Regions from separate parts of the Homo sapiens genome. Here region 1 is linked to region 2. Evidence: fine-mapped expression QTL. Tissue or cell type: Th2 cells. Region 2 holds a variant in brackets; the other region holds the start of a gene. All regions are shown on one strand. Distances are from middle to middle.

What was found. PIP is the estimated chance that this variant, and not a neighbour inherited with it, causes the effect.
Region 1: CDC7 starts here. The variant in region 2 is fine-mapped to the expression of CDC7 in Th2 cells (Schmiedel 2018, PIP 0.95).

What each region holds. Positions count from the first base shown.
Region 1 is chr1:91,495,842-91,504,218 of GRCh38, forward strand. CDC7 (cell division cycle 7) reads left to right here and starts at 5,010. Exons shown (of 12, transcript NM_003503.4): 1 at 5,010-5,107; 2 at 5,813-5,990. The coding sequence starts at 5,876. LOC105378856 (a long non-coding RNA gene) reads right to left here and starts at 5,007. Exons shown (of 3, transcript XR_947599.4): 1 at 2,674-5,007. RefSeq lists an enhancer at 5,652-5,851.
Region 2 is chr1:91,269,972-91,278,348 of GRCh38, forward strand. It overlaps HFM1 (helicase for meiosis 1), which reads right to left. Exons shown (of 39, transcript NM_001017975.6): 31 at 7,011-7,091; 32 at 6,657-6,772; 33 at 4,759-4,838; 34 at 3,741-3,844. Among named protein-coding and RNA genes, the nearest start is that of HFM1, 130 kb to the right of the region's middle. The variant A/ATT (reference allele first, on the strand shown) is at 5,014.

The DNA.
Region 1 (8,377 bases), 230 kb after region 2:
GTCACTGTTAGCCATGATGACAATGACGATGATGAGATTCTCTTACACAGTAATTGACATATATGCGGTCAGTGAATATTTTTCCAATGTTGTTGAATTTGTCAAATAAATGAATAACATGGAATAAGTGCTATTCATGTTACTGTGATAAAAGCTGGAGTACAGGTTGCTAGGGAAGCACGCACCCAGGAACTCAACCTATTCAGTTGGTGAGGCTTCCCTGAGAAAGACATGCTCCATGCTGGGTCATAAAAGATAAATATGAAAACTGTCCACTTCAGCCATTAGATATATATCAAGCTACTTAAGAGTGGAGTCCTCTTTTTAGTCATTTGCATATTACAAGTACCTATTGTGTTGCTGGGCACAGCAAGTGTGAGAAGGCATTCATTGAATGAAAAAATAAATTCAAATGTTAGGTGTCTTCCATGAGCTCTCCTAGAAGCTTTAAATATTATTTGGTTTGTGTAACAATCCTGTAGGCAGTTTTTTTCTGTCCTACATTACTAATTGAGAAATCAAACTTTGGTAAATTTGTGGACCTTTGAGTATTTCAAATTTTCTTGCTGTTTCATTGTAGTTTCAGAATTGATTCATACCTTTTAGATTTTTAAATAATTTGCAATTTTGTTTTTGAAATAAAAATTTTCCCCATTAAATTCTAAGTGTTTCGTCCTGGTATACTTTATAATGCCTGGCTAGAATTTCATTTTATAACCTAGGAATTTCTTCATTTACTTGGCATTGCCCTAAGAAATAATTTCTGTTCAGTTTCAAAAGCTGTGTATTTCCTTTACTTTATCTCTTTTTTTTTTTTTTTTTAAGACTAGGTCTTGCTTTGTCACCGAGGCTAGAGTGCAGTGGTGCCATCACAGCTCACTGCAGACTAAACCCCCAAGGCTCAAGCAATCCTCCCACCTCAGCCTCCCAATTAGCTGGGACTACAGGTATGTGCCACCATGCTGAGCTAATCCTTTTTACTTTTATTTTTATTTTTTGGTATTTTTTTGTAGAGACAGTATTTCACCATGTTGCCCAAGCTGGTCTCAAACTCCTGGACTTAAGCTATCTGCCCGCCTCAACCTCCCAAAGTGCTGGGATTACAGGCATGAGCCACCACACCCGGTCTGCTTTATTTCTATCCTAGGTTAATAAATTCCTTAAAGATAGGAGGTTCTAAGACAGTGTGTCAGCTATTTATATATATAATAGTGGAAAGGGGGATAAGACTTCCACTAACTTTTCCTTTGTCATTTCTTTCTTTCCTAGTCATTTTTTTTTTTTTTTTTTTTTTTTTGGTGTGTGTGTGGGGGGGCGGGGTGTGTCCTTTAGTAGGGACATTCATGGAGAGAGAGATGAGCAAAATTATTTGAAAGTTGTTCTGGGAACCTATTCTGAGTTCACCGTACAACTGACCAGAGACTCCCCATTTCTCCCAGAGTGAGAAGTTGCACCCAACTCAAATTTCCACAGGCCTCAAGGTCTCCAGTAGCTGGGCATCTGGTTTTCCCAGACAACTCTTAGAATCACTTGGCTTCTAAATGCAGATTACCTGGTGCCTAAGTAGTTTGAAGTCTACTAATAAGATTGTTCTCATGTGCTCCCTCTAAGACAAGAGGACACTTAGGAGGGCAGGATCCCTTTGCAATAGCACAGATCCACAATCTCACTGGCACAAACAGGTCCATGGCTTTTCTTGCTAACTCTGAGTTAGTAACTTCTTCCAGCCCATAATGGGTCAGCCGTGAGTTAGGGAAGGGACAGATCCTGGGCTAGGCTATCTAAAGAAAACTTCACTGACTTTGGAGGATGCAGAGATAGAAACAAAAGACAAAAAGACACACACACACACACACACACACACACACACACACACACACATGCACATGCAGCACAAACAGACCTGGAGGCAGAATAAACATGTTATGAAGGAAAAATGGTAAAGGCACTGGTCTGACCCTAAAGAAAACTGTGTGTATGTAGTTATCAACATCTCTAAATAATAATTTTTATTAAACAATCTATCTCCACCTCCAATCTGCTTACAGGAGACATAAGTGCAACCAACCATTTGAAACCTAATGTCTAGCTGAGCATGGTGACATACAGCTGTAATCCTTGCTACTTGGGACGCTGTGGCAGGAGAATTGCTTGAGCCTCGGAGCTATAGTGATTCATGATCATGCCACTGCATTTTAGCCTGGGCAACAGAGCGAGACTCTGTCTCTACTAAGTAAATACATAAATGAATGAATAATAAAAATAAATAAATAAAACCTAACTTCTCATTGTACATTAATTCCATAGCCATTTATTAAATCCATACTATGTGAACAGCCATGTGCTAGGTATTAGGGATGGGATCATTGACAAAGGGGGAAAAAGTACCCATTATAAATTAACTAATACAAGCTAACAATGTCCAGGCCTATGGGACCAAGCACTTTACATGTATTATGTCACTTTATCTAATTTAATCCCTATAGCAAAACCAAGCAAGTATTTTATCCATGTTACATTTTTGAAATAGGAGTGTCACAGATATTGAATAACTTGCCCAAGTTACACGGCTAGTATAAAGTTTATAAACAATTTGACACTGTAGCCACTATTCTATTTGTGCGCCCTACCCCCCAATAAAGACAAGAAACCAAACTAAGAAACAAACCAAACCTCAAGAGTTGTCTCCATTTGTAGATCTTTTGTTCGTCAATAAATTCAATATAGTCTTTCTGTCTCACTCCAAAGCTGCTCTTTCTGAAGGCTCTAATGACTATCTCTGATCAATTCTGTATCCTCACTACTTCTGTGAAGCATTTGCTATAGCTGACCACTTTCTTCTAATTGTAAAACTTTCTGCTCTTGACTTCTATGACATCACCTTCTTACCTCACAGACTACTACTTCTCAGTCTCTTGCTGGTTCTTCCTCCTCCTCTGCTCAACTATGAAATGTTGGAAGTTATCATAGCCCAACTCTCCATCTACAATCTTTGCTTAGATAATATCGTATAGTCCAAGACTAGGTTTCATCTATAAATTCATAACTGCCAAGTTTATTTCTTCACCCTGAACTATACCCCAGACCAATATATTCATCTGTTTCTTTGACATCATCACTTGCATATCTTGGACTTGATTATTGTTAACGACCTCCCGATAATGACCACCAGGAACACAACTATAGCTGAGCAACTTGGATGTATTGCTTGTTTCAGTACGTGAGAATGCACACCATGGGGAACCATGGGATGTCTTAGGAAGAGGGTGTTAAAAAGGACTTGTTATAGAATTTGAGTTTGTGTTAGGAGATTTACGGAAGGGTGCAAGAAAGAGGGACTTTGGCCTGGATTGGAAGCTGTAAGGAAGCAAGGATAATTCTATAATTGGGTATTTTAATAAGTATTATGTAGAAGGAAGGAAGACTAGACTGAGGTTAAAACTATAATTGGTAAAGAAGCAGCAGGCACTCATATTAGCTAGGATAAGGAGATATTTGATCATTTTTATGGCTTGGGCAATGTTGATGTTGTGTCTGTGTTCACATATGATTATAGAGTGATCTTACTTTTGTCTTGATCTATCACGGTCACAACTCTGTCTTGTCTGATGTTCTGTGAAATTGTTTATGTTCAACAGAAGAATACCAATGCTTGGCTGTGATTGCCAGGCCAGCTCAAAGCAACAGCAAACCAAGCTGGTAGTACCAGGCCATCTCCTGGATGTCAAGGTCTGCTTTTCTCTTTCTCGGTATCCACACTAGAATCCTTGATTTACTCTCTTCCACCTCACTCAATCAAAAACCATTACCTCACAGACTTCCCTTCTATGTGGCACTACCACCCACACATATGCTAGCCCAAAACCTAAGATTCACTGTTGATGATGCCCTTTTCTTCATTTTCCATAGCCAATCACCAAATCCCATTGTCTTCTTTCTTTTATTTCTTCCGCCATTGTTCTGGTCCAAACTACCATTATGTTTCTCCTAAACATAAAGTGCATCCTATTTCCTCTGCTTCCACACTTGCCCCTCTACAATCCATTCTCTTCATAACAGATAGATCATATTACTCCCTTGCTTTAAAACTTTCAAATAGCTTCCAATTGTACTCAGAACAAACACTAAACTTCTTACCCTGGCTTTCAAGGACCCTGGTCTGGCTTCTGCCTAACTCTCCACCTTCATCTATCTGGGACTATCTTGCGGCTCACTCACTATGCTTCCCCCACACTGGCCTTTCCTGCCCTGCCCCTGCAACATACCAAGTTCCTCTTTCTCTCTGCATTTGCCCTATCCTTTCTTTGCCAGGACAACAGTCTCCCTACCAGCTCTTTCTCATCCAGGTCTCTTTGAGAGGGCTTCCCTGACCATCTAGATGCCACCTTCCTGGTCAGTATTTCCCTCAAGTAGTAATCAATGCCGGAAAGAATACTGTTCATTTATTCATCCGTTATTGTCATCGCTTCATTGGAATTTAGCTTCCTACAGGGATGGTGTTTATCTTGCTCACTATGATTCCAGCCCCTAGAAAAACCCACCTACCTCATAGCCAAGGGCTCAGTAAATAGTATACACTGCCTTCCTGCCACTGTGCTAATTTCTACTAACACAGCCACAAACAATCAGCAATTACATTTTCTGCTTGTTTTTAACGGGGAAGTAGGGCACTCAACGAAAAGGAAATAAAAGCAGAGTCAAGAAAGTGCCTTTTATCCATGGAGTGCCCAATGTGTTGTGCGGCCGGCCACGTATATAGGGATGTGTCAGCACCTGAGATTTTTCCTTCTCTGAGCTAGCTTCTTTCCTGGAAATCATGCTGGGCCCTTAGCCTTATGGTTCACCCTGTTTTTTAAGATCATCCACGGGCTTCATTCCCGTAACCGCTCTTCTAGCTGGCCAAGGCGGCGGGAAGAAACCCCACCCTCTTGCGCAAACGCCCAGTAGCGGAATCCGCGGGGTCGAGGGCTTTAGTGTGCGCATGTGCAACCAGAGCGGCGGCGGGAAGTGTTGCGCAGGCGCATCCGATCGACTCGGTAGGTGGGGATCTCTTGGAGACGGCGACCCAGGCATCTGGGGAGCCACAGAAGTCGTACTCCCTTAAACCGTGAGTTTCCGACGGTTTGTTCCATGGCGCGGGATTGTGAGGGATTAGGAACGAATTCTGGATCGTGACTTCGGTTTTCTCGCCGTGCAGTTCCTTTTCCCGCCCCCCTTCGGATCCCTCCGACCTGCGGCGGGAAAGTCGCGCGCCTGCGCACTAAGCATCTGGTTCGGTCTCTGGCCCGAGGGAAGCCGGTCCTTCCCGGCTGAGCTCGCGGCCAGCGCTGGCCGGCGGATTCCCATTCATTCACCCTTCTCCTCCTCCGCCCAGTACTCGTGGCCAGGGTCGTATCAGTTCTCCGTCAACTTGCTTGGGGCCTTGGACGAGCCTCCTGGCGCTTCCTGTCAGTGGCGAAAAGGTTTTCTCCCTCAGTTCTTTTCCTGACTTCAAACCGCCCCCGGCGCTCGGCCCCTCCCCCACGCGGTCCCGCTGGCTGTGCCGGACTGGCAGCCTCGCCGTTTCCCACTGCGCCTGCTGCTGCGCGGGTGCCCAAGCCGGGAAATTCTCCCTGCAGCCCCCTGCCGGTGTTTCTGATAGGTGAAAATAAAGCACATGGAATTCCTTAGACAAGGCCACAGTATGCCCTACTGTGGAGGTTTGGACACATCGTGCGTTTGAAAATGTTTGCCCCTTTGGGGGGCAGTAGCATGTTTTTAGTGCGTGGTTTAGCGAGTGATCTAAATTTCTCTAGTGTTCTAATTTTCACAGCTGCTTTGCTCCCCCTGTGGATGTAACCCCTTAGCTGGCATTTTGCATCTCAATTGGCTTGTGATGGAGGCGTCTTTGGGGATTCAGATGGATGAGCCAATGGCTTTTTCTCCCCAGCGTGACCGGTTTCAGGCTGAAGGCTCTTTAAAAAAAAACGAGCAGAATTTTAAACTTGCAGGTACGTGTTTAAATCCAAAGATGTACAGTTATAAAGATTTTTCAGGCAACAATTCTGTGTTTTCAATTCCTCTCAAAAAATAAGATTGAATCTTATAAAGTGAATTGTATGTTTCTATAGGACAGTGTTAAAACAGAGCTTCGTATGATCTAAATGTAGGACTGAATTGCGATTTGGAAGACTGTAATACAACCTGTTTTACGGTTGAAGTTGCTATGGTCTCAGTATTGGTAATTAAGAATGCAGAAATTTGATGATGCCCAAATTAAATTTCTCTTTTGTATCTGTGTTCTTATCTCTACTCACCACATTGCCTTAAGCTTAAATGTAGAAATTGACACTGGAGATCATCACTTAAGTATTCAAAAGCAGAACTCACAGACAAAAAAATATGAAATGTTTGTAGCAATAATAAAGCACCATATCTCAGTGTACAGCATGAAATGTTCTTTGACCGTAAACCAGACCTTAGGGTGAATAAGACAGGGTCAAGCAGTGCCTGCTCTTGTACACTCGCATGTGTACCTTCATTTCTGCTCTGGCACAGGACCTGGGACATAGTAGGTATTTGTTAATAATAAATATTTGTTAAATAGAGGAATTCTAGTTGACTGTATTTTTTTTTTTCTGAAAGGGTAGCCAGATCATCTTTCCCATCTTTGTCTTAAGTGAATTCTGTGCTTGTCTAAAAGATACTTATTTTGACCTTTTGTCCATATATTCTTTATAACCCCACCCTAGAAAAATATGACATCACATACTTTCTGCTTTGATGGAAGTCAGTTATCCCACTTACCTAAACTTGAAACTTTAATCTTCAGCTGATGCTTTTTATTTGTTCCCCATATCGTCACCTAGCTTTATTTCTTTTTAGTAAGTATGGCATTGTGTCTTCTTTCCATTCCCATTTCCACCACATTAATTAATTTCCTTACACTTTGTTCCTGATTTACAACAGTTTCTCACCTATGCTGCCTGCTTGCACTTTTCCATTCTTCAGTTCATCTTGTATGTTGGTGCTAGAATAATCTTAAAATGCCACTTTCATCCAGTTTCATGGATACTGTTCCTCTTCCTTTCCATTTTTCCAGCAGTTAGCTGTTTTTTTAGTTCATCTTTCCCTTACTAGTCACTGGACACATAACACAGTAACACAGTCATTGTAGTATTCTTTTTCTATTGCTTAGGACTCTGCATTTTGTCTCCACTGTAAACCCCTTGGCGGCAGTATCTCCTCTGGTTTCTAAAGTATGTTGTGACTTCAGCAGAGTATCTGAATGGATGACTCTGAATTGGTTCTAGCATCATGTTTAGGAGAATGCCACTATTCTAATATTCTGAAAATCTGCTGGGAAGTAATGAATGGGGTGAATTTTATTACGGATTTCAAAAGTTTTGTAGCGTTTATGTAACAGAACATTGGACATTATAATATGATAAATTATAAAACGTGCTAAAACTTTACTCTTATGGTTCTTTTTTAAATATGATCTTAATAACAGCTAAAGTTATATAAACATAACTTCAATAGGGAGCAAAGCTGATGAGGTCCAGGCACATAACAGTCTAGTAATCTAATTGGGAAAGTAAATCAAATTAGATCATGAGACAGGTATATGCCTGCACCTCATCAACTTTACTCCTTATTGAAGTTATATTTTTGATTGGATGTTTTATATATCTTAGCATTCCCAGAGCTTAACAGTGTCCAGCACATAGTAGGTGCTTGAAAATATTTGAATGAATGATTTAATGTAAGGATATAAAGTAAAATACTTAGTGTAATGGATGAATAGCATGTCTCTTTATTTTGAGATATTTGTCAGATTTTTATAACATTTTTCTGATAAACATGATTATTGAAATTTTTGAAGTAAAGAAAGCCAAAATAAAGTCTTTTCCCATTATTGAAATATTGCCACTGTTGACATTTTGTTATATTCCTTTAGCCTTTCTAGGCATACATAGGTACATTTTTTAGAAACTAAATTGGGATCTTGTTTTGTTTTTGTTTTTGAAAAGAGAACCAGAATATGGGATCTTATTTCTGATCTCCATTTTTTTTAATATATATCTTGAATATTGCTCATGTAGTAAATATTCTACAACTGGATTTAAGGTCCATTGCATATTATATTATAATATATTCAATCACCTTTTACTATTGACCCTATAGATTGTTTCTATTTTTTCCTATTAAGAAAAATGCTGTAATGCACAAACTATCTGGCATAATATTGGTCAAATGTTTATTCTTTCACTGTTTTGGCAAGCTTTTTTTTTTTTTTTTGAGACATGGTCTCTCTGTCACACCACTGTCACTGGAGTGCAGTGGTGCAATTACAGCTCACTGCAGCCTTAACTCCTGCACTCAAGCAATCCTACCC
Region 2 (8,377 bases):
CTTATTTGCCATATTAAGGAGATTTTTTTGTTTTTTGTTTTTCTTATAGGTAAAGGATAACTATTGAAGATGTTTCAGCAGAAGGTTTACACAACCAGATATGTCTGTCAGATCACTTTGAATATTATGGATTGAAGGATAATGAGACTGAAAGCAGAGAGAAAAGTAAGTTATTGCAGTAAACAAGAGAGAATGAATGCTTAAGCTAGAGTATCAGCAGAAAGGATAGAGTGGAAATAACAAATATGAGAGATGTGCAGGAGGCAAAATAATTAAGATTTGGTGATTATTTACATGTGGGGTGAGCTATTTAGAAGGACACTTTAGCAGCTTAACAAAGTAAAGAGTTCATTCATTGAGCTAAGGCAAAAAGAAAAGGTGTAGAGTGAGGTAAGAAGAAGACAGAGTTCAGATGCTGACATGTCTGATATGTTAACTGTTAGGTGGATATGTCCAGGAAGGTGATTATACAGATGGATTTGGAGTTAGAAAGAAAGGTCTAGATGGGAGATACAGCTTTAGAAATTATCAAAACATAGTCAGTGATTAAAGACACGGGCTTGGGTGATACTGTATAGGAAAAGTTTTTGAAGTGAGAAGAATAAAAAAAAAAAAAAGAAAAAAGAATCCTTTTGCAACATCAACAGGAAGAAAAGCCCATGCAGTCTAAGAAGTAACAGGAGACCAACATAATGGTTTTACTGAAATCAAAGGAGAGATTTCCAAAAGAAAGGAAAGACCAGTAGTATCAAATACTATAGAGGTCAAAGAGATTAACAGTTGAAAACAGTTCACTGAATTCAGAACTTAGAAAGTCACTAAATGGCCTGAACAAAAACAGCTTCAAAGGACTGATACACAGAAAACCTAAATTTTAATGAATAAAGAGTAACTAGGGTATAAGGAAGCGATGAGCATACTGAGTGTCAATTGCTCTTTCAATTAATTTTTGTTTTGATGAGAAAGCAAGAGATAGAGGGTATGGGGACTCTAGAATTCTGTTTTTTGTCTGCCTGGTATGCTTTCCCTTCTTTTAGTGGGAGTACCCTCCCTTTCCTTTGAGGAAACTGCTTCTACAATTCTACTGGATCCTAGTAAGGCCGTTATTCATGGTGCCCTGCCTTCTCTGGGGCCACAGGTATACAACGACCCAATCGTCAGGTTACTGGGATTGATCAAGGGATAAACACATGACTCAAATGAGGCCAGTTAGAATGAGCTCTGGTCTGCCAAAACTAACAGGGAAGTCTACCTTTTTCCACTGAGGCGCTAAACTGGTAAGATGTAAGTTAGGGGCTACCTGCTGTGTGAGAAACCCTATTAAAAAGTAAAGCCAAGTAGCAACAGGCATAGCTAAAAGATTGAGAGAAAGCCAGAGGCATGAGTGCCTTGATTTAGCCAGAATTAAGCCAGATACTTTTCAGTTTACTTGAGACAATTGGTTCCTTTTCTTGTGCTTAAGTCATTTTGAGTAGAATTTTTATCATTTATAATAAAAAAGTCATGACCAGAAGCTGAAGAAGGAAGAGACTTCAGCATATTTATATGCTAAAGGGAAAGACACAGTGGAGAGGAAACAATGAAAATATGGGAAAGAGGAGATGGATAATGATCTTCTAAAGTCCCAGGGAAAGCAGGATTGGATAGAATTAAGATTACAGGAGGAGAGATATGCCTCGAGTGGAAGAAAAGATAAGTTTTCTTTTAAGACAAATAGATGGTTACAGATGGATGCAGAGACAGGGAAATATATAGTTGAGGGGTGGGGCAAAAAGCTGAAAGAGTTCATATACTACTGGTTCAATTTTCAGTTCTCCACTGATCACTAAAAGTCAATTTCATTTTATAGAAATGGCATTGGGCTGGGAATCAAAAGATATGGAATCTTTTTCTGGCCTTGCCATTAATTAGATATGAAATTTTTGGGCAAGTCATTTAATCTCTTGGAGTCTTGGCTTCTTTCACTATAAAATGAGAAATTGCATAAAGGTCCCTTCCAATTTAAATCTTATGATTCAACATGCTTTCTCATATAATTTGTGACATTTTTTCTTCTTCCCTTTTTGAAATTGGAATACAGAAGATAAAAACTGCCATGCTTTTTAAAAAACATTCTCAAAAGCAGTATTTGAATACATTTAAAGTATGTTTTGCCACCAAAGACTAATATGTGAAAAATATAATAAACATAATTAGTTATTACTAACAGTACCAGAAACCCTAACAGCTTTACATGCATTATCTCATTTAATCCTAAAACCCCTAAAATATAACCAGATGAGCAACTTAGACAAAGTGGTTAAGTAGATTATGAAAGGTTATACTAAATATCAGAGCTAGGACTTGGACAGATGGTTTTCAGATCCTGCGAACTTAACTACTATACCATGCAGCAACTTCTTAAAAAAAAAATGGCCCACTCAGTAAAACAGGGATAGAGTTATTATTGGGGGTTAAAGTATCTAGATGAGACTTTAATATCATAATATAAATTGGATTTGGAATAGTGAGTGGGAAAGAAAAGTAGGAAAACCATGTAAATATAACACAAAAGTAAGCAGAGGGAAGGATAGACAAGCTCTTGTATGCAGAAGGACAGGTAATAATGTAGTAATATAAGGAAGGAGTAAGTTAGAGGGCTACATGTTGAACAAAGATAAATATAAGAAGGTTGACAATTTTATACTTCCTATCCGCTTTGTAATGACATCCAGGCTTTGAATAAGTTGGATAAATGCTCTGGTTCTCCAGGTGAGATTAGGGAACTTTTCTTGATCTCATTATTGGGCCTAATAGCTGCCATGGTATCACAAGAGGTAGTGAATACTCCAGCCCTTGACTCTGTAAAATCTTAAATTATGACTAGAGGAAAAAAAAGTTACAACATGAAGAAAAAAAAATGACAGCATGAAGAAAAGAATGTCAACAGAAGCCAATGCCAAACACATGAAATGATTTTCAGAAAACCCCAAGCTTACCATTTCTACATACAGCCACTTGAAGAAATAACTCAATGGATAGGATTGTCTCATGTTTTAACAGACTGGCTATTAATAGCATTATTCAGGGAAATTATGCTCTATTAATTGCAGGAACCAGAGTAATGATGAACCAGGCAGTGTTGAATTTATATGCATTATCTCATTAATTTAATGACGGACACAGATAAAAAAGCAAATCTAGATTACAAACTAGCTATATCCCACAACCTAAGTTATTTTCTCATACTAACATAGAATTGTAAGAATCATAGGTTTAAGAATTGGAGAGATATTAAAGGTCACCCAGTTCAATACCTTCATCTTAAAGATAAGACTAAAGCCCAAAGAGATTAAATAACTTGCCCAAGGTCACATTGATATTTTGTAAAACTGGACTAGTTTTATAAACATAAAATTATTTTAAATAATTCTAATGATATATGAATGTAATCATTCAGTATGTTAATACTCTATATACCCAAGGATCCCTTATTTGCTCAGGTTTTCCTCATAGTATCTTTAAATTAAAATAGCATTATGTAGGAAAGAGATTTTTTTTTAAAAAGTACAACAAACAGAGTAAGACCATCTCAATAACAGACCCAAGAATTTGAAAATGATTCAGTAATCTAAGAGAAAAATGTTGCCAAGTTAATAATCATAACAATTTCAGATGCCGGTGTTTCAATAACACTACTCGTCAATTCAAAGTAATAATAAGCCATTTACTCTCTCAAGTAAGTATCAATGGTAATTTACCTTTGTCTTGATATTCAGATGGTTCTTGTCTAACTTTTCCATAGATTTCAGGCTGATCCCACTGCTCCATTATAGGCAATTCAGATATGTTTAAATATTCTGACCTTTATAAAGATAAAACCATGAAAATGTTAAAGAAAATATGGAAATTAATCTAAGCCTGAAAACTATTTATTCATATAAACAAAAATAATGATTTATCCATTTAACACTTCTATGATACACTGGACCCAGGCTGGGTAGCAAATAAATAGGTGTTTCATGGAAGTGACCAATACTTTCCTTTACATGCCCTTAGTTAGATAACAAAAGCCAGGATCTCTAGAAGTACTGCTGGCATCTATTCTGATGAGTCAGTTCCTGTTCTGTACTAGTTGTTAAATACATTGAATGTCATTCCTGCATATAGAATGCCCTTATCTAGCAGGGAAATTACATATATGATTGTCCTGTAGGCATCAGGATACAGGAAAAGAACAATGAGTTACCACCTAAGGCCTTCTGCTTGCTAACTAGGAATATGAACTTCAGTTTTTCCATCTATACAATGGGACGAAAAAATACCTCATTTTATGGGCCATGTTGTTGTTTAAGTCAGAAAATATAATGCACAAATGTGTAATTTTCGTATTATAAATCTGAGATATTATTAATATGGACTGAGCTTCTAAATGGAAAGGTTAGACTGTACACCAACATGATTTCCATTTTAAAGTATACTCTTGTCACTTAGTTTATATTCCCTATAAAGAGAGAACCTAAGGGAATGACAGAGGATAGGTAGTTTCCTAGGGAAGAGATGATCTAATGAATGTTATTTCATAACTGCAGAGTTCTAAATAAATTTAGGGTATCAAAGATAATGAAACCATTATGATGTTATTGCTTCACTATGGAACTAAACGATAACTGTGACTTGATGGTAGCCAGTGACTATCTTTCCCTGAATAAGTGGTTACCTGCAGGAACAGAGTTTACGATAAATATTTTACCTTAGATATTAACATTATATTTGTACCTTGATATACTAGGAAGGGAAGGTTTTGGAGTAAAACCAAACTCTTTAAGGTCCACACTTTGAGATTTATTCATCTGTATCTATTAATGAAACAAAAATAAGTTCAACTATCAGTTTCACATCAATAACTTGTAACACATGAGCCAAACAACAAAATTCCTGCTGGTACATAAAGTCCCCAAATCAATGAATTAGGAGAAACTCAGGTTAGTTCTTGACTCGAATATTTCACTCAGGCCCTTCTTAAATGTTGGC[A/ATT]TTTTTTTTTTTTTTTTTGAGATGGAGTTTTGTTCTTTCACCCAGGCTGGAGTGCAGTGGTATAATCTCAGCTCACTGCAACCTCTGCCTCCCAGGTTTAAGCAATTCTCTGCCTCAGCCTCCTGACTAGCTGGGATTACAGGTGCCCACCACCATGCCTGGCTAATTTTTGTATTTTTAGTAGAGACAGGGGTTTCACTATGTTGGCCAGGCTGGTCTCGAACTCCTGACCTTGTGATCCACCCGCCTCGGCCTCCCAAAGTGCTGGGATTACAGGCGTGAGCCACCACATCTGGCCTAAATGTTGGCATTCTTCATGGTTCTTTACTAGGTCTCTTCTTACACTACACCTTCTCAATCAAAGATCTCATTTATTCCTGTGGCTTCAATTGTCATCTACATGTGAATGACTCTCAAATTTCTACTTCTCGCTCAGCTCTGTCTCCTGATTTTCAAACAGTTATATCCAGCTGTCTGTAGGACATCCTTAGCTAGACATCTTGCAGGCCCTCTAAATTCAGTGTTTCCCAAGTTGAACTTATCCTGTTCTCTATTTCAGCAAACTTGCTTTTCCTTCAGAATATCTACCTGAATGAGACCCCACTTTTCTCCCAGTTGCTAATGCCAGAAACCTGGGCATCATTTTTGACTGTTCCTTCTATTTTGTCTCTTATAACCAATGAAGTAGCAAGGTAGCGATTCTACCTCTGAAAAATATTTTAACCCAGTCACTTCCCTCCATTGCTATTGCCACTACCCTAAACTAGGCCATTATTTTGCTTAGATTATTGTAAAAACCACCTAATGAGTCCCTTTGTTCCTATTCTATCATCCTCTAATCCCTTTTCTACATTGCAGTCAGAGTGACTTTTACAAAATACAATTTTGATCATGTCACTGGTTAAAATCTTTCATTGGCTTCTCAGTACTTTCATGATAAAGTCTAATCCCTTAAAATAGCAAAAAGGTCTGCATGATCTAGCTCCTACTTGCCTCTTCAGCCTCATCTCTCTCTACTCCTTTACTTGTAATCAAACTCTAGACGTACTGTATTACTGAGAAAGAGTTTCTTTAAAGATCCCTCTCTCTCTCTCTTTCTTTATACCTCTGGACCTTTGTATAATCTCTATGCTTGGAATATTTAGCTATCCCTTCCTACGATCATTCTGGTGCCTGCCCCTCCATCCTTGGCTTATCCTTCAGGTCCCAATCACATCTATTAGGAATCCTTTCTTGGTCCATCAAATGTGGATTGAGTACCTTTTCTGTCTAAACTTAACTGTGTTGTACTTCTGTCACAGAATCACTCATCACACTATATTAAAAAAGCATGTTTACTTACTTGTATCTCTCACTCTACTACAAATTCTATGATTGGGAATAAGACTGTCTTAATCGTCACTGTATCTTAGCACTTTGGCATATTCTTGGTGCTCAAAGAAGATGGAAGGAAAGAAGAAAGATTTAGAAGAAAAAAGGAAAGAAGAAAGAAGGGAAGATGGATTATGAATAATGGTAATATTCTTAGTCAAGCCCACAAGTAATTCTATAGTACACTGTGGATACCTAATTGACAGACAGAACAAAGAATATTTATATACGTTTAACTACAGAACAATGGGAAAAATGTTATTAAAACTAACCTTCAGACGTTTAACTGGAGGAACAGATGAAACAGCATTCCTGTTTCTTAAATCAGATAAATATGAAGAAATTGTTGACTCTTTAATTTCTGACTTCTGTGCAACTCCAATTTTACCTATGAAAAGAAACTTCAGATTCTTTAGGTTAAACTTCAGATCTTATTCTTATAAAGTCAAATTTCTTTAAAATTTCAAATCTAGTATTTACTTTTTTCATGTTGCCCACAGAGAGAAAATTATTTGCATTATTAAGTTGCATAATATAAATATCATACATAATTAGGATGTCATTACTATCCACCAAAGACCTTTCAATTTTGAACACTTTAAATAAACTTGTTTTAAGGAACTCACAGCAGTCATGTCCACATGTATGTTTACTTTTACAAAGATGATTGCATTCTCGGTTCCCAGGTTTTTTGCTGGCAGTCGTTCCTAAATTAATATAAGAAAAACAAATCCATTTGTCACTACATTTATTATTGTTAATTTAATATAATTAATTTTTATCCAGTTTCCTTCCTTTCAGACAATACAAAAATATTGATTTTTATACTTTCTCAAGTGTTTTGTAATCCACGTAATTTTTTTTTTAATAAAGAGATAGGGTCTTGCTATCTTGCCTAGGCTGGAGTGCTATGGCTATTCACAGGCATGATAATTAGTATTACAGCCTCAATCTCCTGGGCTCAAGAGATCCTCCTGTTTCAGCCTTCCAAGTAGCTGGGACTACAGGCACTTACCACCATGCCTGGTAATTTTTAAAACATATTTTTGATAAGTTACTCCCTGCCCCACTATTACTCCCAACAAGAAACATCTAGCCACCTACAAGCTTCTCTCAACCTCCCTGGTGTGTGTGTATAATCTCCCTGGTGGGTGTGTGTGTGTGTGTGTGTGTATACTTTATATATATATAATATATATACTTTAAATATGTATAATATATATACTTTATATATAATATATATACTTTATATATATACTATATACTAATATATATAATATATACTATATATAATATATACTAATATATATAATATATACACTATATATAATATATACTAATATATATTATATATACTTTATATAATATATACTAATATATATAATATATATACTTTATATATAATATATACTAATATATATAATGTATATACTTTATATATAATATATACTAATATATAATATATATACTTTATATATAATATATACTAATATATATTATATATACTTTATATATATAATATATACTTATATATTATATATGCTTATATATAATATATACACTAATATATAATATATATACTTTATATATTATATTTTATATATACTTTATATACATTATATTATATATATATAAAATAGGGCCAAATATGGCCACATATCAGTAACTTTTTTACTAAATGAGGTAAGAATGAGGGTGGAGTTTAAAAACACTTCTGTTGCTTTGTACTCAAGCCTGAAAAACCTGTAAAGAAGTAAACATTATGGCATTTTGATGGTACTGCTGACAGAAGTTAGTAAACAAGATGTAATACATATTTAATACATATTAGAAATAAATGCTTTAGGGATCTAAGAAATTAGCTATATGAATTTACAGGAAAGAGAGATTGTTTCCATCCTGACTCCTCTAAGTTAGAATTAATATATCTAAATATATGATTTACTCTTAATTTATTATATTTTAAATCAGCTTTTTCTTGATCTTAGCTCTC